Homo sapiens: one gene and its partners. The protein of the gene in region 3 purifies or fractionates together with the protein of the main gene of each other region. This does not show direct contact. Each region holds a gene or a part of one and is shown on either strand. Other genes may lie near its edges.

The links.
Region 1: the proteins of LGALS8 (region 3) and ADCY6 purify together in Homo sapiens (affinity purification with mass spectrometry; 3 studies listed by BioGRID and IntAct, with this or other methods). This does not show direct contact.
Region 2: the proteins of LGALS8 (region 3) and SDCBP purify together in Homo sapiens (affinity purification with mass spectrometry; 4 studies listed by BioGRID and IntAct, with this or other methods). This does not show direct contact.
Region 4: the proteins of LGALS8 (region 3) and SLC17A5 purify together in Homo sapiens (affinity purification with mass spectrometry; 4 studies listed by BioGRID and IntAct, with this or other methods). This does not show direct contact.

Annotation. Positions count from the first base shown.
Region 1 is NC_000012.12:48,772,082-48,779,104, reverse strand, and holds part of ADCY6 (adenylate cyclase type 6), read left to right. Parts: intron 1-847; coding exon 848-997; intron 998-1,368; coding exon 1,369-1,490; intron 1,491-1,583; coding exon 1,584-1,695; intron 1,696-1,873; coding exon 1,874-2,001; intron 2,002-2,518; coding exon 2,519-2,677; intron 2,678-2,754; coding exon 2,755-2,896; intron 2,897-3,013; coding exon 3,014-3,142; intron 3,143-3,406; coding exon 3,407-3,432; intron 3,433-3,654; coding exon 3,655-3,802; intron 3,803-4,050; coding exon 4,051-4,148; intron 4,149-4,326; coding exon 4,327-4,414; intron 4,415-4,586; coding exon 4,587-4,703; intron 4,704-5,006; coding exon 5,007-5,165; intron 5,166-5,457; coding exon 5,458-5,636; intron 5,637-6,561; coding exon 6,562-6,597; intron 6,598-6,680; coding exon 6,681-6,810; intron 6,811-7,023. UniProt on the Homo sapiens protein: Catalyzes the formation of the signaling molecule cAMP downstream of G protein-coupled receptors. Functions in signaling cascades downstream of beta-adrenergic receptors in the heart and in vascular smooth muscle cells.
Region 2 is NC_000008.11:58,548,505-58,556,277, reverse strand, and holds the start of SDCBP (syntenin-1), read right to left. Parts: upstream 3,018-7,773; 5' UTR 2,975-3,017; intron 1-2,974. UniProt on the Homo sapiens protein: Multifunctional adapter protein involved in diverse array of functions including trafficking of transmembrane proteins, neuro and immunomodulation, exosome biogenesis, and tumorigenesis.
Region 3 is NC_000001.11:236,519,642-236,527,004, reverse strand, and holds the start of LGALS8 (galectin-8), read right to left. Parts: upstream 3,024-7,363; 5' UTR 2,944-3,023; exon of another isoform or gene 2,497-2,943; intron 1,038-2,496; 5' UTR 935-1,037; coding exon 890-934; intron 1-889.
Region 4 is NC_000006.12:73,636,993-73,644,015, reverse strand, and holds part of SLC17A5 (sialin), read left to right. Parts: intron 1-2,091; coding exon 2,092-2,325; intron 2,326-5,516; coding exon 5,517-5,604; intron 5,605-7,023. UniProt on the Homo sapiens protein: Multifunctional anion transporter that operates via two distinct transport mechanisms, namely proton-coupled anion cotransport and membrane potential-dependent anion transport.

The DNA of each region.
Region 1 (7,023 bases), on a different chromosome or scaffold from region 3:
TTCAAGACCAGCCTGACCAACATGGTGAAACCCCGTCTCTACTAAAAAAATATACAAAAATTAGCCAGTCATGGTGGCAGGTGGCTGTAATCCCAGCTACTCTGGAGGCTGAGGCAGGAGAATCGCTTGAACTGGGAGGCGGAGGTTGCAGTGAGCCGAGATCAGGCCACTGCACTCCAGTCTGGGTGACAGAGCAAGGCTCTGTCAAAAAAAAAAAAAAAAAAAAAAAAAATGTGTTATTCAGTGTATAGAAGACACCTACAGAATCCTGGCATATGGTAGGCAGCCAACAAACTAGCTACCATAATAATAATGACAATGGTGATTATTGTTACTAAGTTATGTCAAGTCAGGGAGAGGCTTTAGAGATCTTCTCATTCTTCCTCTTTGGGTTATAGATGAGCAAACCCAAGAGAGAGGAGGTGACTTGTCCTGGGTCACTCACAGGAGGATGTAGAGCTCAGGTCTCCTGGGTGCTGTCCTTAAGGAGGAGCACCTGCAAAAGGAGCAGCGTTTGTCTTTTGTGTGGGGTGTTTGAGGAGCAGGAGATACAGGGTGCTGGGGCTGGGCCCCATGACTTATCTGGCCCTAGTTGGTCTTCTGCTTCCAGAAGCTGTGAAAAGATCTCATTTCTAGTCATGGAGGATTCAGGCAGTTGGCTGGGATCTGGGGTCCTGTGGGTAATGGGAGAGATATATTGCAGGGGTGGCAGTGGCTTGGGGACAGACAGGGTGCAGGACCCTGGCTTCCTTCCTCAGAGAACCTAGCAAGTTGTGTGAATGTGTGTGTGTGTTTAGGGGGGCAGGCAGAGGAGATGGTCACTGTCTGCCTCTGCCACCTCCTGCAGCTCGGTGCCAATGTGCTGCTGTTCCTCTGCACCAACGTCATTGGCATCTGCACACACTATCCAGCAGAGGTGTCTCAGCGCCAGGCCTTTCAGGAGACCCGCGGTTACATCCAGGCCCGGCTCCACCTGCAGCATGAGAATCGGCAGCAGGTGGGGCTGCTCCCCGTGACCAGGGCCTGCCCCCACCTTACCCCCAAATAACTTGCACATTGGATCTGCTGCCTTGTCCAGTTCCGTGCAGCACAGTGTGATGGTTCCCCTGGGTTGTGCGTCACAGAGGCCCTGTGATACTGGGGTTTTGTCCTGTCCAAGGGAAGGAGGGCGTAGACAGGAGCACATCTGGGGGCTCAATGGAGGGTGGTCAGAGGGGGCTCTGATGGGGGAAGGTCAGGCCACAGTCCAGAAGGGAAGGTCAGGTCTTCAGAGAAGTCTAGGAGGGCTCTGGCGATGTGGAGAGACCAGGAGGGATTGCAATGTGAGACCAAGAGTATAGTGATGCCCTATTGGAACCACTGGGCTAGGAGCGGCTGCTGCTGTCGGTATTGCCCCAGCACGTTGCCATGGAGATGAAAGAAGACATCAACACAAAAAAAGAAGACATGATGTTCCACAAGATCTACATACAGAAGCATGACAATGTCAGGTAGGGTGAGGGTAGGAGGATGCCCAGCAGGGCGGGGGGTCTGGAAGTCTTTGAGGGCTATGTGTTCTGTTCATCCTCTGCTGTCATCTACAGCATCCTGTTTGCAGACATTGAGGGCTTCACCAGCCTGGCATCCCAGTGCACTGCGCAGGAGCTGGTCATGACCCTGAATGAGCTCTTTGCCCGGTTTGACAAGCTGGCTGCGGTGAGGGTGCTGGGCCTTGGGATTGGGCCTGGGTGTTGACCGTGGTGAGAGCATAGCTTTGCTGGCAGCAGCTGGGGATTTGAGGGCAGATAGAGTATGCGTGGAGGGTGGTGGGCCATGCAGGCTGGGTGGGCAAGAGAGTAAAGGTTACCCTTCCCTCCAATTCCTTCCCATTCAGGAGAATCACTGCCTGAGGATCAAGATCTTGGGGGACTGTTACTACTGTGTGTCAGGGCTGCCGGAGGCCCGGGCCGACCATGCCCACTGCTGTGTGGAGATGGGGGTAGACATGATTGAGGCCATCTCGTAAGCAGTGCCCCATTCCTAGGCTTCCTGGAATTGCGGGTGCCCCAGACTGCTCCTACTTTTTGATGAGACCTCAGGAGATTTCCTCAGTTTTGGCTTTCTCTGTCTTTGAGGTCTGTCTGTCACTGGGAAGGGGAATCTTTCTCCAACCTGTGCAAAGACCCATGCGGACCCCTAGACTCCCAGCCAGCCGAGATGGGGCCGGGAGAGCCTATGCAGTAGGGGAGTTGGGCTAGAGGGAATGCCATCTGTGCAGGCCAGAGGGGATAACAGTGATTCCTCTTCTCCTAGCTCAGTTCCATAAGATGCTGCTGGGCCCCTGCTGTTGAACACAGCCTTAACATTTGTCCTTGAGCCCCATGCAGCCTTCTGCTCATGTCCAACCAAGGCTGTGCTCCCGTCCCCTGCATCTGGGTCTGTCCTTGCCCGCTGGGCCCTGAGAGGAGTGAAGGGCCTGGGTTGTGGGCTGGGGGAGGGGAAGACTGCCAGGAGCTGATCTGGGGCTGCATCCTCCCAGGCTGGTACGTGAGGTGACAGGTGTGAATGTGAACATGCGCGTGGGCATCCACAGCGGGCGCGTGCACTGCGGCGTCCTTGGCTTGCGGAAATGGCAGTTCGATGTGTGGTCCAATGATGTGACCCTGGCCAACCACATGGAGGCAGGAGGCCGGGCTGGGTGAGTAGGGGGGTCCAGGTGGGGGGGATGGGGGCAAGGTGGGAGAGCCAGGGTCTCACCCTCTTGGCCACATACAGCCGCATCCACATCACTCGGGCAACACTGCAGTACCTGAACGGGGACTACGAGGTGGAGCCAGGCCGTGGTGGCGAGCGCAACGCGTACCTCAAGGAGCAGCACATTGAGACTTTCCTCATCCTGGGCGCCAGCCAGAAACGGGTCAGGGCCAGGGCAGGGCTGGGGGCAGGGGAGCAAGAAGAGGGACAAATGGGGAGGAGCAGGCCAAGGCCTCCTCTGGGCCCCTCTTCTGAGCCTGTACCCATGCTGCCCGCACAGAAAGAGGAGAAGGCCATGCTGGCCAAGCTGCAGCGGACTCGGGCCAACTCCATGGAAGGGCTGATGCCGCGCTGGGTTCCTGATCGTGCCTTCTCCCGGACCAAGGACTCCAAGGCCTTCCGCCAGATGGTGAGGGGCCCTCAGCACCAGACCTAGGGCCTCATTTTCTTAGCTCCCTCAATACCCTGTCCCTGACCCTGTCCTTTCTTGTGACTGCCATTTCCATGTATGCTTTCTGGTATTGGGGCAGTGAGAAGATTTCATCTCGGGTCCCAGTGCCCCCAGAGGATATGACGGGGACACCCTCAGCACAGTGTTGGGGTGGGGGAAGGAGCTGCAGAGATGAAGGTTGTTGGCCCTTCACCTCACTCCACACTCTGTCCCTTTCTCCAGGGCATTGATGATTCCAGCAAAGACAAGTAAGTCAGGTTACTGAGGAGGGAGAAGGCACTTGCACCCTGGGATGGGGCTGGGGGGAGCCGAGATCCTCCTTTTCCCTGACCTTAGGAGTGTTGTGTGGGAGCAGGAGCCACCCCCCTGGCTCTCCCTCCCTCCCTCAGGTGCTGTCCATACCTTTCCTTTCATTGTTTCTCACATGGCCATGCCCATGCAACTGGTGAAACCATGTCTCCTGCCCTCAGCCGGGGCACCCAAGATGCCCTGAACCCTGAGGATGAGGTGGATGAGTTCCTGAGCCGTGCCATCGATGCCCGCAGCATTGATCAGCTGCGGAAGGACCATGTGCGCCGGTTTCTGCTCACCTTCCAGAGAGAGGATCTTGAGAAGAAGGTTTGAGGGATACAGGGCAGAAGGACAAGGGCTGGGGGAGGGGCAGGTCGCAGCAGGGAAGGCTGAGCACAGGTGAGGGCACAGGTGTTTCTGGGGGATGGAGAAGGGACCACAGAGCAGGGTGAGGATTTCATCAGTTGAGCCAACTGCATCTCCTCCCTGTTGAGACCCCTGGTAGTGCCCTGTCCTTGCTGTCCCTGCCTTCCTTAGGGAGGGCCCAGCACTCAGCTCAGCCTCCTCTCCCTCAGTACTCCCGGAAGGTGGATCCCCGCTTCGGAGCCTACGTTGCCTGTGCCCTGTTGGTCTTCTGCTTCATCTGCTTCATCCAGCTTCTCATCTTCCCACAGTGAGAGCCCTGCCTTTCCTCTCTTAGCTTCTCTCTTCACCACTTCCCAGAAGCTTCCTAAATACCCACACAAGCCCACAATCCCTGGAGCCTGCATCCCTGCTTGTTCCAGAGGGTGGGACAAGAATGCCCAGATCTTCCAGAATTAAATGATTTTTCTGGCCCTGTTCTGCCCCAGCTCCACCCTGATGCTTGGGATCTATGCCAGCATCTTCCTGCTGCTGCTAATCACCGTGCTGATCTGTGCTGTGTACTCCTGTGGTTCTGTACGTAAGGGGATTTCTGAGGCTGTTGGGGAGGGCAGGCTGGACTCCAGACAGGGAGGAGGTCACATGGGGAGAGGGAGAAGGCCATGCCTCTTCCACTGGGCCCCATCCCTGGTTGCCATTCCTCCTTGGCTGATACAACCTTCAACTCTTGGTCTCTTGATGCCTCTAGCTGTTCCCTAAGGCCCTGCAACGTCTGTCCCGCAGCATTGTCCGCTCACGGGCACATAGCACCGCAGTTGGCATCTTTTCCGTCCTGCTTGTGTTTACTTCTGCCATTGCCAACATGGTAAGGGTCCAGTGGGAATTCTCCCACCTCTGCTCTGTGCCAAGCACTGTCCTGGACACTGGGAGTACAGCGGAGAAAAGGACATATTTTCTGCCCTCAGGGAGCCCCCTCCCAGAATAGGGGAAGGTTAACTCCGGTTCTCCTTCCTTGTTCTCCCAACCTCTTGTCATCCCTGAGTGAGTACTAAGGCCCATGGGGTATAAGGTACCTGGGCATAGCCCAGGTTAGGGTACATGGCTTCACCAGGTACCTTGCAACCCTTTCCCTCCTTGGTTACCCTGATATACCCCTCCACTTTTGCAGTTCACCTGTAACCACACCCCCATACGGAGCTGTGCAGCCCGGATGCTGAATTTAACACCTGCTGACATCACTGCCTGCCACCTGCAGCAGCTCAATTACTCTCTGGGCCTGGATGCTCCCCTGTGTGAGGGCACCATGCCCACCTGCAGCTTTCCTGAGGTGTTCGAGCAGTGCTCAGGCGGTGGGGGGGCTGTCCTGGCACAGACATTGGCCCTTCTGTGCCAGGCCTGGTGATGGGCGCTGGGGACCCAGGAACTCACCAGAGTCTCCCACACTAGGAGCAACCAGGGGCCCTGGTGTGTTGTAGGGGCTGGGCATGGAAGGTGGAGGATATGGGGGTTTGAGGGGTGTGGTGGGAAGGTTAGGTCAGGCAGGAGAGTGCAGGGCTCTCCCTGCCCAAGGGTGCTGTGGCCTCTGCCTTCACCCAACGCTGCCTCTGCCACCCCCGCAGTACTTCATCGGGAACATGCTGCTGAGTCTCTTGGCCAGCTCTGTCTTCCTGCACATCAGCAGCATCGGGAAGTTGGCCATGATCTTTGTCTTGGGGCTCATCTATTTGGTGCTGCTTCTGCTGGGTCCCCCAGCCACCATCTTTGACAACTATGACCTACTGCTTGGCGTCCATGGCTTGTGAGTTTATTCTCAGGTCCTTTAATACCCCAGGAGCTTCCCTCACCTTTCTAGGTCACTGTGAGCCTCTCTGGTGCCCATGCCCCTTGTGCCTTGGAATGCCACAACACCCCTGTGGGGGAAAGGGAGGAGATGGAGGAGCTCCCAGCATGTGACCCCAAATAGTTACCCCCAAGGAAACCCTAGTCCTGGGAAATCCTTGTGTCTTTAGGCTAGACATTAAAAAAAAAAATTCCCTCTTACATTTGCATGGTGCTTTCACATCCACCATCTTAACCACCTATAGGACATACAGCTGCTTGGTGGCAGGGCTCTGGTTAGGAACCAAAGCTTCTGATTCCTGCTTGGGGGCTTTGCCTGGGACACCACACTGGCTTTTCCTCTGCAAAACCCCATTCCTTTGATATGTGGCCATAGCTTGTTGTAGTAGAAAAAGCCTCTGGTCTCTGCTGGGTTTGAATCCCTGCTCTGCTGCTCATTAGCTGTGTGACTTTAGACAGGTGAGTTAGCTTCTCTGAGCCTCAATTTCTTCATCTGTAAAATGGCAATGTCACCTAAATCACAGGGTAGTTGTAAAGATTATAGTAACTAACATTTATGGAAGGCTGACTATATGGCAGGCACTGTGCTAAGCCTTTTACATACATTATTTAGATCTGATCCCTGTTGTACTGATGAGGAAGGAGGCTTAGAGAGTTAAGCGACTTGTCTCAGGTCACATAGCTGGTAAGTAGAGGAGTCTCTAAGAGCAGAGGTTTTCTTAACCTCTACTCTTAATGAGTTAATTAATGTAAGTAAAAGCCCTGGCCCAATGCCTGACTTACAGTATGTGCTCAGTAAATGCAGTCTCTTGTCTCCCCTTCCATGTGCCCACCCAGCAATCCAGGAAGCACTGATGACTTTGTCTCTTCTATCTTCTTACCAGGGCTTCTTCCAATGAGACCTTTGATGGGCTGGACTGGTAAGTGAGGGCTCCGAGGCAGCAAAGGGTAGAGCCATTAGATGCCTCCTTCAGACACCAAGCATGTCTCTGCTTATCCTTAGTCCAGCTGCAGGGAGGGTGGCCCTCAAATATATGACCCCTGTGATTCTGCTGGTGTTTGCGCTGGCGCTGTATCTGCATGCTCAGCAGGTGGAGTCGACTGCCCGCCTAGACTTCCTCTGGAAACTACAGGTGACTGTGTGGGCCTTTGGGGGAAGAGGAGGAACCTAGGGGCGGAGCCTGGGCCAGGCCAGAAATGTATCTTGTGCTAGCTGGCTAAGGCTCAGGCCACACCTAGGCCCACCCTGGTTCCATTCCTTCTCTGTGCCCATCCCTTACTCCCTGCCCCATCCTCTACCTGCCCCCTTTACCCCTTTGCCTGTTCTTTAGGCCTCATCTGTCTGG
Region 2 (7,773 bases), on a different chromosome or scaffold from region 3:
ATGCAAGGGATCTAGGTTAAACGCTCCTCGTGATATAGTTTCATCCTGAAGCCATCCACCTATCCCGTCCGTGGAAAAACTGTCTTCCATGAAACCAGTCCCTGGTGCCAAAAATGTCGGGAACCGCTGTATTAAAAACATCTTGGGATAATAAAAATTTAGGACGGCAGAATCATTGATTTTTTTAAAAAATTATATGACAGTTGATAAGCAATTAGTTGAATTCGAAGATGTTGCCTATTTCAACTACTGATATCTTCAAAACCAGGAAAATTTGGAGTGATAATTTGTTGAAGCAGTTATTAAAATTTCTAGTAAAGTTGTGTTTCATTATGTCTTTAATTTCACTTCTGCAAACTATTCATAAAATGAATGAAAAATGTAAAAAATAAAATTATCAGGCCAGGAACCGTATGGCTCATGCCTGTAATCCTAGCACTTTCAGAGGCTGAGACAGGAGGACTGCTTCAGCCCAGGAGTTCAAGACCAGCCTGAGCAAGATTCCATCTCTAAAAAAAAAAAAAACTAAAAAATGAAAAAATAAAGTGTCCATTGGACCCAGATAGTAAGCATTCCAGATGGCTCATACATGAGGTCTAGAAACACAATTTAATATATCCTAAGCAGTCTTCCAGAGCAATGTTTCTCAATCTGGCTAATCATCAGAGCCAAATTACCCGAGGCTCTAGTTATTATAAAAACAGCTTCCTGGGCAGACACAGATTTCACGGAAGGACTTAGGAACTCTTCTTTTTAATAAGTATCCTGGGGGTTTCTGATGATCAGCCATTAAGAAGTATGTCCATATGAAGTCCACTGTAATAGAATAATTAATCCTTACCCATAGGATTCCATTTCTCACCTGGCAAAAATCCAAAGTTTGACATTCTCTGACAGCAAGCCTTTGAGAAACACTCACATACTACTAATGGGAGCGTAAACTAGTACAATTACCATACAGAGTGGGTTTGCAGTTATCTTACCGAAATTCTAAATTCAGATACCCTCCAACTCTGCAGTATCACTTCAGGTCTCAAAACCTGAAGTGTAAAAATATATGTGCACAAAGGAAGCAACATATGTAAAAGTTGATTCACTGCAGCACTGAGTGTAACAGCAAAAGACTTGAAAGCTATATATGCTGATATTAGAAAAGCTCCAAAATATGATCACTAACTGGAAAAATAAGAGCAAAATGTGAAGCAGTATATAAAATGTTAACGTTTGTGTTAAAAGCAAGGAGGCAAATACAGCTTATATGTTTGCCTGTGTAGATATAAAATTTGCCTAGAATACCTAAGAAATGTAAAAAAGTTGCCTGCCTGCCAGAAGACTTGTTACTTTATACCTTTTTATGCTGCTTAAATTTTGAGACAAGTGACTGTTTACCTACTCAAAAACAATACATTTACAAAACATGTTGGCAGCACTTGAAAAGAAATTAATAAATGCTAACGTAACTATTGCTAAAAGTAGAAAGTATTTCAAAGTTATTTGGGGGCGCTTTTCTTTTTTAGAATCTCTTGGCATTTAATACCTATAAAAAGTTCCCAAATCTGGCAAAAACAGGGAAAATAGTTGTCACGCTCATTTTAAGAAACTCTTTAATTAAACAGTACATTTAACCGGCAACCATTAGCAAATTCTTCCCCTTTTGTTCATCTTTTTCCCCTTTTTACATCTTTTCCTATAATGCCCAAAACTAAAAGTTAATGTCTCCAAAGTTAAATTTAATTTATAATGGAGTGACTATTTACTGACCATTTTAAAAGTCATTCTACTTCTTTTTATTCTGTGCCACAAACCACTAGATTTATAATATTTATGTACCATTTAAGGCACAAATTTTATAGAATTAAGTTGGTAACACAGAAGACAAAAGGACGTATTTTCTACCGTTATCCCTCAATCTTAAACAGGAAAATAAAAAGACTGAACAAATTTGAGTTTTAACTAATCACATACACATTTAGAAATCAATTTAATTTAAAAGGCCCGCAGTTGTTTTTCAAGGTAAATTTCCTGCTTTAATCAACGATTTCTTTTTGAAACAAGCGGATGTTAAGAGTTTGGTAAGCCGAGCGTACTTTCTAAGCAATGTACGTAATGGAAAAGATAACAGTAAATGTGTATGTGGTTATACAGACTAGATAATCTACAAACTCCTTTCAAAAATGGACACATTAGAAGACTCCATGACTCAATAATCACCACTTTGGTAAAAGTGAAAACTTTCCACATCCATATGCCTTCCCTTTCCCATTATTACAAGGAAATCCTGAAAGGAAGGCTCTGAGTCATCATATCTCAGGGGTCAGATCTCAGGGGTATTTCCTTCTAAACACACCCTACTGGAAACGTTTCTCCCTCAGGTCCAACTTCTCCAGGAAAAAGCTCAAAGCGAACAACCTCTCCCCACCCCCTTCCAAAAAAGTCAAGGCTTCGCCCAATAAACAAACACTTCCTTCCTCCTTTCAAATCCAGGACTTTCCGAATAACCCAAAAGAAGGGCGATTAAGCACAGCCCTAGAAACGCCGAGCACTGGGAGGAACCGTGGCCAGAGGCTCTTTCTTATGTCGAGATCTTATCGAGGAGAAAACAAGGATCGAGAGACGGTCCCAGGAAGAACCCCAGAGCTGGGGCGGGGGCTGAAGGCGTTCACCCAGCCGGGCCTCCGGGCTCTGCCAGCCCCAGCCCCAGCCCCAGCCCCAGCCCCAGCCCGGGCAGGAACCCGAAACGCGCGGGGTCGCGGCAGGAAGAGCGCGCTGCTCCCGCAAACTTGCCCCCCCAGCCAGCAGGGCGCAGGGAGGGGCGCGGAGCCCCCTGAGGAGAGGGCGTCGCCGCTGCCTCGCGAAAACGGCTGCGACCAGGATGCAGTCTGTGAAGTGGCCCAGGGACCGTCACACCTCTGCCCCAAGTCCCCGCGCCCGGGACCTGGCACCGGCGTCCCTCCTTGCCCCCTTGGCCTCTCACCTAGCCCACAAGGAACCGCTCGCCGCCGCCGCCTCCGGTCACTGGCACGGACTTCTGAGGCCCGAGTGTAAGAGAGCGGTGCGCGCCCGAGGACCGCCCCCGAGGCGCGTCATGGCACCGCCCCCGCCTTCAGCCCGCGCAGTCGCACGGCGCCGGGTCGGGTGATCCCGTCCCCAAGGTAACGGGGCGGTAGGGGTAAAGAGGCCTGGGTGTGGGTCGTTCCTGCAGCTCCAGGTATCCGGCAAAGTGGGGCGGTTCATGCCGCCCGCTGTCCGCTGCCCGCTGCCCAGCGGTTATGCTCCCAGTCTTCTCCGCTCTTCGGCTGTTCGTGCCCGCGGGCCCCGTGCCACCCACTCACTACTGTGTGCATCGCAGCTCACGGTCGCTTGGTTCTCGTCGCCTCCAATTCAAAGAGGTCTCGGGAGCCCCTGTTCCCTCTTGGGATGCCTTCGACTTCCACCACTTGCTGCCCTAGTCTCACTCTCCGCTTGCTGTACCTCTCCACTATAGGCTCAGAAACGTTCCTCTCACGACCCCTTCTCAACTCCTGCTTTATTTTTCTGTTGGAAATTTGGATGTTGGGGGTGGGGGGCGTATTACTCTGTCCGCCTAAGCTAATATTCCTTCGCTATTGAGAGTTAGGTGTGGTGCTGCGCAAAAGTAATTGCTTCCCAGTAAAAAAACATAACGATCATTTCTTGAGGGCTGATTTTGTGCCAGCCATAGCTCTACGAACTTAATGTATAGTCTTATTTGGTCTTCACATCAGTCTATAAAGACATCCCATTACAGACAAAGAAACTGAGGCACAGTTTACCCAAGAGTAATCATAGTTACCACGGAATACTGTAGAGTCCTTGACAAAATAGCATTTACAAGCAGTTTATTTCTAGCTAAATTAGTGCCAGAATAATTTAATATATGGCAAAACTAATAAAAATCTGAGTGTAAAAGAGGTGACAACTAAAGATGAAAACTTTGCTCTCAGTAAGGTTATAGTTAGGCTGATGAAATGGACATTTAAAAATAATTACAAGGTAGATTGGGAAGGAAGAAATAAAACTTTTTGCTTTCAGATGAGATGGTTATCTAACATAGAAAATCCGGAAAAAATTGACACTCCTCGCCTAAAAAAACAGAATGAAAAGCAATTATAGCAAGTTTGCATGAGCAAGTTTAAAACAGGCTCATTCTAAGCCAAAATGCTTGGGACCAGAAATGTTTCCAATTTTGGATTTTTTTTTTTTTTGCTTTTGTAATATTTGCATTATATACTTATGGGTTTACCATCCCTACTCCAAAACTCAAAATGTTCCAGTGAACATTTCCCTTGGTCCTCATGTCAGCACTCAAAAAGTTTCATATTTTAGAGTAGTTCATATTTTGGATTTCTGTACTAGGAATAGTCGACCTGCATACATGGTCTGTTGTTTTCTTATATACCATCAATAAACAATTGGTATTTGAAATTAAAAACAATAACCACTGACATTAGCACCAAAATAAAATGAAATATTTAGGTATAAATCTAACAAAATATGTAAAAGGTTTATACAAGAAAAACTACAAAATTCTAAATAAAAAAAACTTCCAATGAGAAAAACTACAAAGTTCAAAGGAGATCTAAATAAATTTAAAGATATTCCATTTTCATGGATAGGAGTACTTGATATTTAACTGTCAGTTCTGCCCAACTTAATCTATAGATTTGATACAATCAAATCAAATCAATCAAAATCCCAGCAAGTTATTTTGTGGATATTAACTGATTCTCAAGTTTATATGGAAAAATGAAAGACCAGAAGAGCCAAACCAATACCAAAGGAGAGGAACAAAGTCAGAGGCCTAACAGTACCTTAGTTCAGGCTGTTGTAACAAATTGCCATAGATTGGGTGGCTTAAACGACAGAAATTTATTTCTCACATCTCTGAAGTCTGAGAAGCCCAAAATCAAGTTGCTGGCACATCTGGAAATCTGGTGAGGGCTCACTTTTGAGTGTGCAGATGGCATTCTTCCCATTGTATCCCCACATGGCAGAAAACAAGACAGATAAAGCACATTCTCTTCTATCTATTCTTATTAGGGCATTCATTTCATTACGAGGGCTCAACTCTCATGAGCTAATTATCTCTCAAAAACCTTGGGTCTAAATACCATCACATTGGAGATTAAGCCTCAACATATAAATTTTGGGGGGACACAAACATTCAGTCCATAGAAGTACTCAACTTCAAAATTTACTATAAAGCTATAGTAATCAAGAGAGCATGGTATTGACAAAAGAATAAACAAATAGATCAATGGAACAGAATACAAAGCACAGAACTTGACCCAAACAGATACATTTAACAGATCTTTGGCAAAGTAGCAAAGGACAGTCTTCTCAATAAATGGTGCTGGAACAACTGGACTTCCACATGTAAAAAAAAAAAATTGAATCTAGACATAGACTTAACACCCTTCACAAAAGTTAAATAAAAATGGATCATAGACTTAAATTTAAAAGCTAAACTATAAAACTGCCAGAAGATAACACAGGAGAAAATATAGGTGACCTCAGATTTGGCAAAAAGATTTCAGATGAAACAACAAATGCACAATGGAAGAAAAAGTTGACAAGTTGGGCTTTACTAAAATGAAAAACTTTTGCTTTGTAAAAGACAGTGTCAAGAGAATGAGAAGACAAGCTACAGACTGGGAGAAAATATTTGTAAAAAATATGTCTGATAAAGAATTTTGGCCAAGTGCAGTGGCTCACACCTGTAATCCCAGCACTTCGGAAGGCTTAGGTGGGAGGATTGCTTGAGCCAAGGAGTTTGAAACCAGCCTACGCAACATAGCAAGACCCTATTTCTAAACAAAAAATAAAATTAGCTGGATGTGGTGGCAGACACCTGTAGTCCCAGCTGCTTGGGAGGCTGAGGTGGGAAGATCACTTGAGCCCAGGAGTTTGAGGCCAGCCTGGGCAACATAGTGGGACCCTATCTCTATTTTATTTAAAAAAAATTGTGTTCAAAATGCGCAAAGAACAGTTAAACCTCAACAATAATAAAACAAGCCAATTAAAAATTGGACAAAAGATCTGAACAGACATTTCACCAAAGAAGATGGATATGGCAAATAACTATGTAAAAAGAAGCTCAACATCACGTAACATTAAGGAACTGCAAATTAAAACATCAATGAGATACCACTATACACCTATTAGAATGGCTAAAATCCAAAATACTGACAGTACCAAATGCAAACTAGAGTGAGAAACTCTCATTGCTGGTGGGAATGCAAAATGGTACAGCCACTTTGGAAGACAATTCAGAAGTTTCTTACAAAGCTAAACATAGTCTTGCCATATGAACCATGAATCATGTTCCTAGGTATTTACTCAAATTGGTTGAAAACTTATGTACACACAAAAGCTACACGTGAATATTTAAGGAGGCTTTATTCATAATTGCCAAAAATTGGAAACAAACAAGATGTCTTTCAATAGGTTAATGGAGAAACAAACTGTGGTACATCCATGCAACTGAATATTATTCAACAATAAAAAATGAGCTATCAAGCCTTAATAAGACACGGGAAAGTCAGTCACCTGTAGTCCCAGCTGCTAGAGAGGCTGAGGCAGGAGGGTCACTTGAGCTTCAGAGTTCAAGGCTGCAGTCTATGAATAGACACTCCACTCCAGCCTGGACAGCATAGTGAGACCTCATTTCTAAATTTAAAAAAAAAGGAGATTGATAAATGTATTTTTCTAAGTGAATAAGCCAGTCTAAAAAGACTACATATTGTATGGCTCCAACATTGTGACATTCTGGAAAAGGCAAAATTATAGTGACAATAAAAAGATGAATGATTGCCAGGGGTTTAGGGGAGATGCAGATGGGTGAGTAGGGGAAGCACAGGGGATTTGTATGGTAGTGAAGCTATTCTGTATGATACTATAATGATTGATACATAACATTATGCATTTGTCAAAAACCATAGGACTGTATGTGGTATAATAAATTATATACATAATATATAATATATAAAATTATATATATATACACACGTGTGTGTGTGTGTGTGTGTGTATATATATATAAAGTCTTTGTCTCTGGTTCCTAGTACAGAGATTCAAAAACCCATGGAATACCCTTAGTGATAGGGATGTCTTTGTTATGCTAATGAGGTAATTCGTGTCAGGGGAATGAGGAAGAGATGCCTTAAAAAGCTTCCGGATGGAGGCTTGTCACCAGAATCACTGAGCATGTGATTAGGATTAGAACTACTGAAAAGAGTAACATGATTAGATTTGCATTTGAAATGATTACTCTGGTTACTGCTTGGAGGATAAATTGGATGTGGGAATAAGTCTGGGATGTGGGGAGTTCTACTAGGAGACTGCCACAGTCGTCCTGATGTGACAATTATATTGAAGATGGAAAAAATAAAAAATTTAAAAAAGATTAGGTTAAAGAATCAGGAAGACTTCGTGGTTGGTGGGATGTGGATTAATTACAGGGACATGTCTAAAATGAGGACCAGGATTCTGGGATGAGGAACTATGTGGATGTTGGCACATTTGCTGAGATGGGGTTCACTAAGATGAGCAGATTTCGGAGATGGGAAGATTAGAAGATTGTCTTGGGATTTATTAAATTTGGAATAGCCTGTGAGTTACCAGTTGTGCTAGGCTGAATGATGCCCCCAGCAAAGATGTTCACATCCTAATCTGCAAAACTGTAAATATGTTACCTTATAGAGTAAAAGAAACTTTGCAGATGTGATTAAATTAAGCATTTTGATATGAGGAAAT
Region 3 (7,363 bases):
ACTACCACTGAAAGGCTATTTCTCCTAAAACTGACTTTGCTTGATACAGCAGCGATACCTCATTCTTACACAATGACATTAAAACTTAGGGAAAAAGGAAATACAGCTATAAAGTAAATGACAAAAACTTGAACCCACACACACTAACAAAACTGGTTTAGGGCCTCATTTTAAGGATTCTCACCCTTCCTTTTGCCCAAGAATCTTCTAGGCGGTTTACTAAAAAAGTGGCTGTCCTTTTTCAGACCTCGATTCAGGATTCAGCTTCAGATACGTGGAAACTAGACATTCCTAAAGATTCTCACCACCACATAAAACTAAAACAAGCTCTTTACTGCTCAGGATTACAGGGCAATTTCCAGCAATTACAGTCATTCAGGGATTCTAGGACCTGCCTGAACTGCACGAGACCCTTACTACTTCACACTCTCCATCTCCCCATTGGCTTTTGACATTTTCCCTGCTCAAGGGCCAAGCAGTATTTGAAAGGCTGAGGGAAAGATCGAGACATTAACTTCTCATGGACAGCTCTAATTAAAAAAGAAAATGAAAAACTTGTAGAGTAAGAAATCCATTTTCCTTTAAAAACTACAATTTATGATTAGCTGAGCCTCCTCCCATCACCAAAAGTTGGCATTCCCTCCACTCTACCCAGACGTTCCCTGTTCATAACACTGTTTCATCACGTCATATTATCATTGTGACTTCTTCCTCCACTAGAGGACAAGAGCTGTTTTGTAATCAGCACCCACCACCATCTCTATTACATAGTAGGTGCTTTAAATATGTTCACTGGCTTTTATTCTTGCCCTGTCTCCCAATGGATAATTAATATTCTATTGGATCTGTCCTGGCATAGGTAAAAAGTTATCTTATAGAAATCAGTTACCGGGTTATAGATGATATTCTGTAGGTTGTTTAAGGACAACATCATTCTTTTCCAGCTTCTTGTCGATTGGAGTCTCTTCTGTGTATGACCTAAGATTTTAGGCAAGTTTCATTTAAAGGTTACCTGGATTGAAACTGAGGCACTGGCCCTGTGTAAAGTAAAAATAGAGGAAAAGAAAAGTAAGCATGTAGCATTTTTCTTCATATCCTATTTTAAAATTTAAATTATATATTATGTTACTGATATTTACCAAATAATAGAATATTATTACAATCAACGATCTGCCTCCCATTCTTACCAGTGTGCTCATATACTAAATAATTTTGGATTGTGAGTGTAGGAAATATTGACTTAAAAAATACATCAGTAGAAAATTTCTAACATGGAATTTATTATTAAAAATACTAAAATAGGCCAGGCATGGTGGCTCACACCTGTAATCCCAGCACTTTGGGAGGCCAAGGCGGGTGGATCACCTGAGGTTCAGGAGTTAGAGACCAGCCTGACCAATATGGTGAAATCCCATCCCTACTAAAAATACAAAAATTAGCCAGACGTAGTGGCATGCACCTGTAGTCCCAGCTACTCAGGAGGCTGAGACAGGAGAATTGCTTGAACCTGGGAGACGGAGGTTGAAGTGAGCCGAGATTGTGCCACTGCACTCCAGCCTGGGCAACAGAACGAGACTCCATCTCAAAAAAAAAAAAAAATTTAATTAATTAATGGTAAATACTAATCAAACAGTCCCGTACAATTACCAGAGGTATTCATTTAGATTTTCATTTCCATAAAATGAGAATTACAGTATTCACATCATTGGTTTGTTCTGAGGATTGAGTTAATAAAACAGCGAAAGAGTAAGCGCTATGTTAGCTATTATTATTGTGAATAGAAAGAATTGCTCTTCCTCCTCCAATTTAAACAAATCAAAGTAGGGAAAAATCCAATACTTTTAATACTATTAAGATACGGTTTTCTCTGTTGCTTAAAAAAATAATAATCACAGGGCAGGGGAGTGTTGGAAAGCATCAGCCACATTTTTTAAGATAAAAGCACTCATGGACACTACACTACATTTAATAGCTCCAGGAAAAACTCGACTTTAAGCAGAACTAAAGGGGAAATGAAACCAGAGCTTCCTGTATTTTACTTCCAGCAATTCTGTCATTATACTGCACACCAACAATACACACCGATCAAATCTATCACTTTTTCTTTATTAAGAAAAAAAACTGTATCCCTCTTGGTTTACCACCTAAATATAGCCCCATGTCATTAACTTAATTCGTTAGTCAAAACCTCAAAACTCTGGCTCCGTGACTCAATTCAGGAAGTAAGAACAAGAGCAAAAAGAATGGATGCCGAGTTGCCATACACATGTATAATAACAAGCCAGTGACCCAATTTAAGCCATCTGCTTGCATTAAATCACGCAACCCCCGAAGTATCCCCAGGGACAGGTCCCGCCAGCATGAACACTTCGTATGCATCACAAGCAGCCATCACTTAAGTTTCACGTACGGTCAAAGGAAGTCACATGACTTGCGCTTTGCAATGTTTAACACTGCAGTCAAATGACTCGGCATCCTAAAGAGCGTGTTAGAGGCAGGGAACGCAATGGAGGTCACTCCACTGTCACTACAAATTCCGGGAAGGAAACTTCCCCAGATTCCTCCACTTGGAGGTGGCGCTCGGCCTCAGGCTAGGAGGGAACAGGTGAGAAAGCAGCCCAGGTGGGGTGGGTTTGCAGCGAGGAGACACCCCAGGGCAAACAGCCTGACCCCAGCCAGGGATGTCCAAGAAAGGCCGCGACTCCTGATAATCCCTTATGCCCCGGAGCGCCTCGCCTGCAGAGGCAGCGTCCCCGCCACCCAGCCCCGGCTCTGCCGCGGTGAGGACCGGCGGGTCGGGGTGGACTGGACACTGTCCCACCCATCAAATGGTGATTTAGGAGCCGTGACATCCGAATGCCATCCTCCACTGGCGAGACCCTCAGAGCAGCCACGCCTCTAGCGACTGCCCCGCCACCCGAGGCCGGGGGTCGCGCGACTCACCCAAAGACTGGTGTTTCAGGCGCTCCACGGAGCAGGTTGTTTGTCAGCAGCTAAGTGCCGTCAGGGTTCCCGGCTCTGGCGTCCGTGGGCGGCTACGGGAAGCGACAGGAGTCAGTCCTCGTTCACTTCCCGGCTCGCGCGCCTCACTGCTGTGGTCTCCCCACCCTCCCCGCGCCCCGCCTTCTGTGTCTGGGGCGTCCCTGGCGGCTCTGCTGGGTTTTGGACAGGGACCCGCCGCTGATCGCCACCCAGCTCGGCCTCCTGCACAGCCTCTGGAGCCTTGGACCGCGACTGGCTTGCTGTGGGACGAGCACAGAGGGATAAGGACAAAGAATGTGTCCTGGGTGGATCTGGCTGCCTTTGCCCGGAAGGCGGAGTGGGGTGGGAGGTGGTAGGAAAATGGGAAGGAAAGAAAAGAAAGGTGGGCCGACGTCCACCTGGCTGTTCCAGGCCTCCAGGTCTAGGAGGGAGGGCGCTCGGGGCTGGGACTTTTCAGGACCAGGGTGGTCACCGCACAGGCCCCGCCTGCCTGGACCAAGCGCTGGCCTTCCCGGGGCGCCCAGGTCCACGGGGTCAACGCCAGGGTTTTCTCAGCTTCCTCGTCTGCCTCGGATCCAAGTCCAGACAGTGCCAGAAGAGACTTGGAGGCGCTGCTTTTTGACAGTACACACCTCTGTATGCAGGTGAAACGGTGGGGGAAGGGTTCAGTACGCTGGACTGTGCCCAGCCCAAGCTCCCCATCCGTTAGTGATAACTTGGACTCGCAGCCACTCCGCGTCACTCGCCAGTTATCCTGCGTGTGGGTGTTTTCTCCAAATTGGACACTTAGGGAACAGTTTAAGCAGTATGGAGCACAATTCTGTGCCTATTAGATGCTCTTAAATACCCGACTTCTCAGGGCCCTACACTGACTGATAGTTTGACCTATTGGCTGTAAACACACCAGCCAGAAATACAAATAAAGTTAAACAAAGTCATGTCAGCCACTTGGAATGGCTGGCTGCTTACTGTTTATTTTCTGTTAGGGACCTCAAAGTTCTCATCTTCTCTACTTGGCTTTTATCCACATTTGTTTGGAAAGATATATTTTAGTGTCATTAACGTGGGCTTTCTCCTCCCTGGCTTTTGTTTTCATTATTTTTTGTTTTAATTGAGGAATTCATTACAAGTCCCATAACTGGGAACTCATGTTCTGATTCACTGTTGCTTTTCTCTCCTCCTTACCCATTTTCCAAGCCTGATGCACTTCTCAAGATCCAATCTGAATAGGTGAATTTACCCTTGACATACACTGCCTTGGATTTATAGCTGTCTTTTGGTATGTGTTGTGTGTTTTATCTATCCAACTCGACTGTAGTTTGAGAAAAGGAACTTGTCTTATACAGTCTCCAGTGCATAGTGTAATGCTTTGCATAAAATAGATATCAATGTTAGGTTGAAATGTTAGATTATTGATAAAGTCAGGAGCAATTGAATATCTTCACAATTCTGCCTGAGTCTCCCCCCAGCCCCGCCACTTTGAGACAGGGTTTCCCTCAAGTGATCCTCCCACCTCAGCCCCAGGAGTAGCTGGGACTATAGACGCACACCACTATGCCCAGCTAATTTAAAAATTTTTTTTTGTAGAGACAGGGTCCACTGTGTTGCCCAGGCTGGTCTCAAACTCCTGGGCTCACAATATCTTCCTGCCTTGGCCTCCCACAATGCTGAAATTACAGGCATGAGACACCAAGCTGGGCCCTGAGTCAACCTTGTACTTCTTTACAAAGCTAAAATAAGTTGAAATAAGTACACATAAATGCTGTGTTTCTTTTGTAAGTCATATTTAGGTGCAAACGGGGCTGAGTGAAAGGGCCAGAGAGCAGAGTTAACAAAGAAAATCTGGATTAAAATGTTCATAAATCCTAAGAACTTATTCCTAGAAATATCTCCCTCATTTGGCACTGTTGTTCAATTAGCCCAGTGTGTTATTTTAAATAAGCAAATATTCACTGAATGCCTATCATGGCCAGGCACAGCAGTAAAGAATACTAGCATGCAAAGGACCTCATGGGCCCTTCTAGATAGAGTCCCACATCTCTTACATTATTACTGCAGTATCCTAATCGGTCTCCCTATATTTGCCCTTGCCCCTCTGCAATGTAGTCTCAACACAACAGCCAGAGAAGTCATGACAAAACATAATTCAGATCATGTTAATCCCTTACTAAAACCTACTTTTTTTTTTTTTTGAGGCAGTCTCACTCTGTTGCCCAGGTTGGAGTGGAGTACAGTGTTACATTCTCAGCTCACTGCAGCCTCTGCCTACCGTGTTCAAGTGATTCATGTGCCTCAGCCTCCTGAGTAGCTGGGACTACAGGTGCGCGCCACCATGCCCAGCTAAGTTTTGTATTTTTAGTAGAGATGAGGTTTCACCATGTTGCCCAGGCTAGTCTTGAACTCCTGACCTCAAGTGATCCGCCCGCCTCGGCCTCCTGTAACCTGGGATTGCAGGTGTGAGCCACTGCATCCGGCCAACCGTCTACTAATTTTTGCTCATTCTTTGAGTAAAGATCCAGTTCTTACACGAGCACTTCCTGATCTGCCCGAATCCTCACACACTGTGATTTCATCTCCTACTACTTTCCTTCTCACTTTTTCTGCAGCAGCCACAGCGACTTTGCTATTCTCCTAGCAGGCCTGTCACACTCCCATCCTAAAATCTTTACTCAATATTTCCTTTTCCCTTTTCAAGTCTACTCAAATGTCAGTTCTCAGTGGGGCCCTTCCTGACCACCAATATTTAAAATTGCAAACACTCTCCCAAAACACACTCATACACACTCCCTAGCAACTCTTCCTTGCTTTATTTCTGGCTAACATTTGTCATGCTAATATACTATATAAGGTGCCTTTTTATTTTATGTTACTTCACCCATCATAAGACTATAAACTCCATGAGGGCAAGGAGTTTTGATTGTTCTTGTTTCGAGGAAGCTTATACTCTAGTTGAGGACACATACAGTGATGTGTTTTAGAGAAGATTAAATTGGGAGCACCTGAGTGGCAACCTTAGTTGGGTGACAAGGAAAGTCTCTCAGAGGAGTCAAAGTTTAAGCTGCTGGTGAGTGAAAGAAAGGAAACAGCCATATGAAGATGGTGGGGAAGAGCATTCCAGCCTTAGCGAGCAGCTGCTGCAAAGTCCCTGAGGGTCTTGAGAATGCATTAAATGTGTTCAGGAAACAAAGGCCACCAACCAGTATGGCTGAAGCATGAGGGAAGAATGATATGACATCATGAGATTGGATGGCACCACCTAGGAGAGTAGTGGGAGAAAATCACCTCGGACAGCCCTGGGGAGATAAGACAACGCCAATAAATGAGACTGAGAAGGGACAACCAGGGGAATTTGCTGAGAGTGGTGTCACAGATGCCAAAGAAAGAGAAACAGCCTGTGTGCCAAGTGTGCTGAGAGGCCAAGGAGGACGGAAGTAAGCAATGGGCTTAGGAACATGGATGTCATTGCTGACTCTGACTCTGAAGTGTGTTGAGAAATGGGAGGTGAAGAACTGGTGGAAACCATGACTATAAAGATTTCAGAAAGGTTTGCTGTGAGGAGGAATGGAGAAGCAGCATTATAGCTGAGGAAGGAGTGGAGCAAAGGGCAGATTCAGGTTTTCTCCTGTTGTTTTTTTTTTTTTTTTAAAGAGAAGATACTACATTGGTGACTTTTAGACTTCTTTTTTTTCAAGTGACCTGCCATAAGAATTACATTTCCATTGAGACTTACTACACACATACTTAAAATTACGAAAACAAAAATTTTGACCAGGCACGTTGGCTCACTCCTGTAATCCCAGCACTTTGGGAAGCCGAGGCAGGTGGATCACTTGAGGTCAGGAGTTTGAGACCAGCCTGGCCAATATGGTGAAACCCTGTTTCTACTAAAAATACAATAATTAGCTGGGCCTTGTGGCGCATGCCTGTAATTTCAGCTACTCGGGAGGCTGAGGCATGAGAATCGCTTGAACCCAGAAGGCCGAGGTTGCAGTGAGCTGAGATTGTACCACTGTACTCCAGCCTGGGCAACAGAGTGAAACTGTGTCTAAAAAAAAAAAAAAAAAAAAAAAAAAATTGTACAAAACAATACTCCTGTTATGTGTAAAACAATCTACTTTTTCATTTTAAAAAAATGCTGCTTATAGTCCACTAAAATGTTTGCAAGCCCCACTAATGGGCTGTGAGCTGAAGTTTGAAGAACACTGGGTAGTATGTTGGTGTTAGCTCATACTGGCTTGTGACAGCCATTTTTGTACATAACTTCCATGTTGATACCTTGAAGTTATCCAGGGCAACTGCTAGAACTTAGGAACTTTTTCCCCCAAAGAACAAGATCTTAAACATTTACCAGCACGCTACTGACTTTACTCATGTGAATGAT
Region 4 (7,023 bases), on a different chromosome or scaffold from region 3:
AGTTGCAAGATGAAAAACAAGAACTGGCCAGTTTCTTAGGACATTCTTTTCTGAATGTACACATGCCCAACCTAAGCCACATAAGTCATTTTGCCTGCCTTATGTTATAGTGGTATTAATAAATGTGTATTCATCATTTGTTTATAATTAAGTTATATATACTTCATTTTATGTTGCTTATCACACGAGGAGATAGTACAGAAAGAAAAGCTAGTATTCTTTTTAGAAGTACATTTGCAGGCTGGGTGCAGTGACTCATGCCTGTAATCCCAGCACTTTAGGAGGCTGAGGCAGGTGGATCACCTGAGGTGAGTAGTTCGAGACCAGCCTGGCCAACACGGTGAAACCCTGTCTTTACTAAAAATACAAAAATTAGCTGGGCGTGGTAGCACACACCTATAATCCCAGCTACTCAGGAGGCTGAGGCAGGAGAATTGCTTGAACCTGGGAGGTGGAGTTTGCAGTGAGCCGAGATCACGCCATTCCACTCCAGCCTGGGCAACAAGAGCAAGACTTCGTCTCAAAAAAATAAATAAATAAAAAATAATAAATTTTTGGCCGGGCGCGGTGGCTCACACCTGTAATCCCAGCACTTTGGGAGGCCGAGGCACATGGATCACGAGGTCAGGAGATCAAGACCATCCTGGCTAACATGGTGAAACCCCATCTCTACTGAAAATACAAAAAATTAGACGGGCGAGGTGGTGGGCGCCTGTGGTCCCAGCTACTCGGGAGGCTGAAGCGGGGGAATGGTGTGAACCCCAAGGGGTGGAGCCTGCAGTGAGCCGAGATCGCGCCACTGCACTCCAGCCTGGGCCACAGCGAGATTCCGTCTCAAAAAAAAAATTTAAAAATAAATAAATAAATAAATAAATAAATTTTCACCCATTTTCAGTGCTCACGAAGATACTAGTTCATACTTAGATGAATCTCCTCTATCATTCACAAGCAGAGCATTCAAGCAGGAAAGAGGGTTTCTCTCTAAACAAAATAAATCTCTCCGAAAATCTTTATATTTGACTTTAATAATGTTGCTGAGTAACATTTGGGTACACATCACTCACTTTCTCCACTCCAACCTGTGACCTTCAGGGACAATACTGCTGGAATGTACATGAAATCCTAGAATTCCACAGATAAACTGCAAATTGGTACCCTAAATAAGGAAAAGTAAGAGTTTGCTTTGTGTCTTTTTCTTTGCAAAGTGCTTTTGTTGACCCTGCTACTTATCTTCATCTGCCTTATATCAGCAGTAGAAAGAAATCCCGGAATGGTTCTTGACATGTTGGCTTTGTTATACAGCTACACTGCATTAAAAATGTCAGATACTCAGATCAGTCACTAAATCTTCATTAGTACCTTGCTGTGTGCTGTTACTAATGAAAACACAGGTTCTATTCACATGAAGTTTGTGGCTTGATTTAAATTCTTGCTCTTTGGAATTGTTCCATGTGCTTGTTTAAGTGCTTCGTCTGAAATGGGGAGATATTATTAATATCTACATTTATGCATGTTAATAGCCAGCACTAAGTGAACACTAACTGTACATCAAGCCTTATTTTATGTGCCTATTTCATTTCCTCTTCCCAGATCACACATTCGGTAAGTAATAGAGCTAGGATTAAAACCAAGCCTGGTTCCCAAAGCCTAGCTCAGCCACTACAGTTTTCTGCTTAATAGCTTTCTGGATTAAGCCTGTGACTCTTTTTTTGGGAGGGGGAGGCAGGGCCGGGGGGGCGGCAGCCTCCCGAGCCATAGTAGGCTCAGAGATACCCAAGCCTTTTTTGTGATTCTTTTGTGAGCCTTCTTGGTCATAGTTATTATAAAGCTTCTGGCAGCTCATCCTGCAGTCTAGTTTTATAAAATTGCAAGCCTTCTTGAAGTTTACGACTGTCAGTTCTTTTTCATTCACTTCTAAATACTGTATATCTATATTGTTATGACTCACCCACCTACTAGAAAGTTTGCATGTTCTTCAGTCCAAAATAGTGGTTCAAAATCTCATTTATATGTACTTACATGCCAGTAAGAGAAAAGAGCTGCTCTGTGAAGGTCTTAAAGGATTGTTTTATTCTTTTCTGATTTTTGTAGGGTAAGAAGTACCAATGGGATGCAGAAACTCAAGGATGGATTCTCGGTTCCTTTTTTTATGGCTACATCATCACACAGATTCCTGGAGGATATGTTGCCAGCAAAATAGGGGGGAAAATGCTGCTAGGATTTGGGATCCTTGGCACTGCTGTCCTCACCCTGTTCACTCCCATTGCTGCAGATTTAGGAGTTGGACCACTCATTGTACTCAGAGCACTAGAAGGACTAGGAGAGGTAATTTTCTTTTCTCTCTTGTTTTACTTCTTACCGTGTGTCTCCTTCTCTTCTTCTTAAAGATGTCATTCTTTGGTATGAATATGAACCAAAAAATAACGTTGGATGATAACAGGGGTTTATTTTTTAGAGAAAGGACTAACTAGAAAATTACCTGAATAGATTTTGTTTGTGGTAAATGAGGTCTCTAGTAGGAGCACCCCGAAATTGGAACCTTTACTCAAAAACCAGAGAAAACTTTTTTCCAAAAGAGACTTCATAGCTCATACTTTAGGAGAGAAGAAAATAAACCATTAATAAATGGTTAAGATAGTCCGGGCGTGGTGGCTCATGCCTGTAATCCCAGCATTTTGGGAGGCCAAGGTAGGTGGATCACTTGAGGTTAGGAGTTTGAGACCAGCCTGGCCAACAGGTGAAACCCCATCTCTACTAAAAATACAAAAATTAGCCGGGCATGGTGGTGCACACCTGTAATTGCAGCTACTCGGGAGGATGAAGTGGGAGAACTGCTTGAACCCGGGAGGCAGAGGTTGCAGTGAGCCAAGATCGCGCCACTGCACTCCAGCCTGGACGACAGCAAGTCTCCATCTCAAAAGAAAAAAAAATGGTTAAGATTGACCATCCTTACCTCTTGTGCTCTTGCCACCGTTAAACTCTGCTCTATCATTGATGCCCAAGTCTGAAGCACATTTTACACAATAGACTGTTGAGTTGCATTTAATTTCTTTTTTATCGCTTATTCTTTTATTTTTTCTGGTCTTGTAACTTAGAGACAAATATTTTATGATTTTATATAACTATCTCAATTTAGTTCTATGATTCTGCTCTTTTTAGAAGTATTATTGATTTTTGCCTCTTTTATTTCCCTCCTCTTAATAGTTTTATCATTTTTTAAAATTTTGATTCTTGTCTTTCTTTTCCTTCCCACTTTTCTTTTGTATTTCATCATGTGTACCCCCATACTTAATAATTTTCACTTTTCCTTTATAACTTCGAACTTCTACCTCTGAAATCCAGGGAATGGTGTATTTTGCTCTCTTGCATTTCTTTAATTCAAGCAAGATAATGGCCACTGGGCTTGGTGTAGAGGATGAAGATTATTTTAAGTAGCAGTGTATCATGCTGTTGGAATGAACACTGGACCAGAGTTTGAATAATAGCTCTATTGTATCTAACAGTGAAACCTTAGGTAAGCTCTAATCTCTAGATCTCAGTCCCATCATTTTTTAAACTGGGACTAAAATACCTTCCCTGTTTTCAGTCACAGATTAGATATAAAATTCATATGTGATAAGGATTGCTAGAATACTTTGGAAATTGCCAGGTACTATTAAAAGATTTTTCATTCATCTGAATGTTTTTATTTTGTTCTTATCAGTAGAGGTCCATTAAGTAAACCCTTCCTGATCACAAAATTAAAATTACTCCTCTATTACCAGGTTCCTGTTCTTCTTGACAAAGTAAAATATACTTAAATCTAGCATATTTTCTCTGATCCTAGTATTCAATCTCCTTGCTGAATGTATTCCCATATTTTACTTCCAGTTTATGCCACTAATTTAACATTACGGCATATTGATCATATTACCACTGTTATCTCAGGTGACATTTTATTTATTCATTTATTTATTTTTTTCTAGTCTTTGAGACGGAGTCTCACTCTGTTGCCCAGGCTGGAGTGCAGTGGCATGATCTCGGCTCACTGCAACCTCCGCTTCCTGAGTTCAAGCAATTCTCCTTCCTCAGCCTCCCAAGTAGGTGGGATTACAGGCATGCGCCACCATGCCTGGCTAATTTTTGTATATTTAGTAGAGGCGGGGTTTCACCATGTTGGCCAGGCTGGTCTCGAACTTCTGGCATCAAGTGATCCACCTGCCTCCGCCTCCCAAAGTGCTGGGATTACAGGCATGAGCCACCGTGTCCAGCCAACAACTAAATAGAATTTAAGTTGTATTTATACTCAGGTTCTCTCGTCCTTCTTCATCCCTTCAATATGTATCACAGGTGCATTTCCTCATTCATAAAGGACACTTAGATTACTATCTTGCATTCCTACCATCTGATTCACCATAAATATACCTACATTGTCCCTAGGTTTTATAATAAAGTTTTCTACAACATAATCTCTGTGGGCATTTCCAAACATCTCAAGTTTTCTTCTATAATGACTCATCCTGTGGATGCTCCATCATATAGATTCTTATTGATTTGCAATGTACCTAAATCATCTTTGCCTTCCATTGGTATTACTTTTTTTTAATTCCTTTTGTTTTTGTTTTTGAAAGAGTCAGCGGAAAGTACAAAGTATTAAAACATTTATTCTTCTCTCCACTAATAATAGCACTAGTTACCATTTATCTTTACAACAATTATGCAACCGCCTTGAAGTTCAGGGAGGTTAACTAATCTTTCTGAAGTGACACAGAGAGTGTCCAAGGAGAGCCGTTCTCTCTCACTGTCCTGTGGTATCTCCTCATTTACCCAGTCTCTATGAAACTCCCTGTTTCCACATCCTGTTAGCTCTCCGTGTCAGTAATTGGCATCTACTAGGCTTGTTATCACAGGAAAAAAAAGAAGAAAGGCTGTAAACATGCTAATTGAATTCATCCTTTTTTTAATAGGACTGTTTTTCTGGTTGATTGTCAGCTTGAATTTTTTTTCAGTATCCCAAAATATTAGCTCAGTATTTTTTAAAGTTATAAGTTAGTAATATTCCCTTTCATTCAGGTGATTAATAAAGTGAATGAGTAAAATTAACCTTGAGCAAGATCCCTTTATGTCCTCACTCAGTACAATTATTTTAGATTTATTGTAACCCTTATCTTGTTGTCTTAAAACCAGTTCCAAAATCCATGAATCTTTGGGGAGTTTTACTTTTTTTTTTTAAGAGATGGTGTCTCACTACGTTACCCAGGCTGATCTCGAACTCCTGGGCTCAAGCAATCCTCCTGCCTTGGCCTCCCAAAGTGCTGGGATTACAGGCATGAGCCACCACACCCAGCCTCAAATTCTGAAAGTACTTCATTATAAGATATTTTCACTTAACACTGTAAAAATTTCTCATTTCATGGAACCTGATTCGTTTGATTCTTATCCAGAAAATGCTTTTGTAGCAAAATACTTAACTTACTTTAAAGCATTAACAAAACTACCTTACATTTCATCAGAAATATCATGTTCCCTTCTCTCAGGGTGTTACATTTCCAGCCATGCATGCCATGTGGTCTTCTTGGGCTCCCCCTCTTGAAAGAAGCAAACTTCTTAGCATTTCATATGCAGGTGAGATAACAATTACCAAATTTTGCTGTAATATGTTATGTATATATCAACCTTTGGGAAAAAGGGCCTGCATACCAGAACGATGCAATGTTGGATTGGATGCCCCTTTGGGGAGAACATTAAGTTTCGGTAGTATAACTTTATTACCAATTTTTCTCTTTGGCTCAACAACTTATAGTAATGCAGCTTAATTGACTAATGTCATTTTCCCCATCTGCCATCATCTATTTCAAAGTATGTTGTGTTTTCAGATATTGGTATAGAGATGCTATTTTTTTTCTTTTTCTGTTTACTTTTTTGGGGGTTTTAAATTTTATTTTTGTTTGTTTAGAGATGCTATTTAAAAAAAAGAAAAAAAAAGGCCAGTAGCTAGAAAATTGAGTGTTTTTGTCCTTAAATTGTGATTTCTGTTTTGATTAACTAATGAATGTATCATGATTCTCAACCCCTCTCTTCATGCATCTTTTTTCTATTGCATCTTTATTTGCCATCATTTTGATCTACAGGTGAGATAACATGAGTTTTATATATGTGAATTATAATTTTATCAGATTGCATAAGAAATTCTAGCCTTTCTTTCATTGACTAAATTAAAATTTTTCCACCGGACTGCTTTTTAAATACAGTAGTTGAGAAAAGGCCTCTCTGTGGTACTTTTAAGCTAAAATCTGAAGGATAAGAACAAACCATTCATGCAGGGAGAAGAGCATTTCAGCCAATCAGAACAGCATGTACGAGGGCACTCAGGCAAGAAATAACATAAGGGTTAAAAGAAGTGGAAAACTACCTTGGATGGCTAGAACTCAGTGAGTAAGGAGGATGATGGCATAAGATGAGGTTAGAGAAAGAGATAAGAGCCGGGTTATATCAGGTCTTACAGGCTACAGGAAAAAATGTAGATTGTTTTTTAAGAGGCATGATTCAATTACATTTTAAGAAGATTATTCTTGCAGCTATGTTGAGATTGACATGAGAAATCTGATGATAGGTTCAAGAACAGGTACTATCTAAGGTTCCCTTTTACCTATTGAATAAATCCCAAACTCCTTGAACTAGGGGCAAGATTCTTTACAGTCTTCACTACTTTGTTGCAGCTAGCCTTATATCTCTGGCAGATAGTGCCTAGCATGGAGTAGGTACTCAGTAACTGTTCAACTGTCCAACCTATTTTTCCAGCTTTATCTGCTTTTCCTTTCCTTTACCCAAATGAAGTTCCCAAGCCTACTCTCTGCTTTACTACTTCCATTCCTTTGCTTGTCCTGTTATACTACCTCTATATCTTTTTTCTAATCTTGTTTCTATGGGACCACATTTTAGCCTTTTTTTTTTTTTTGAGCCAGGGTCTCACTCCAGGCTGGAAGGCAGTGGCACAATCGCCCCTCACTGCAGCCTCAACAGCTGAAGCGATCGTCCCACCTC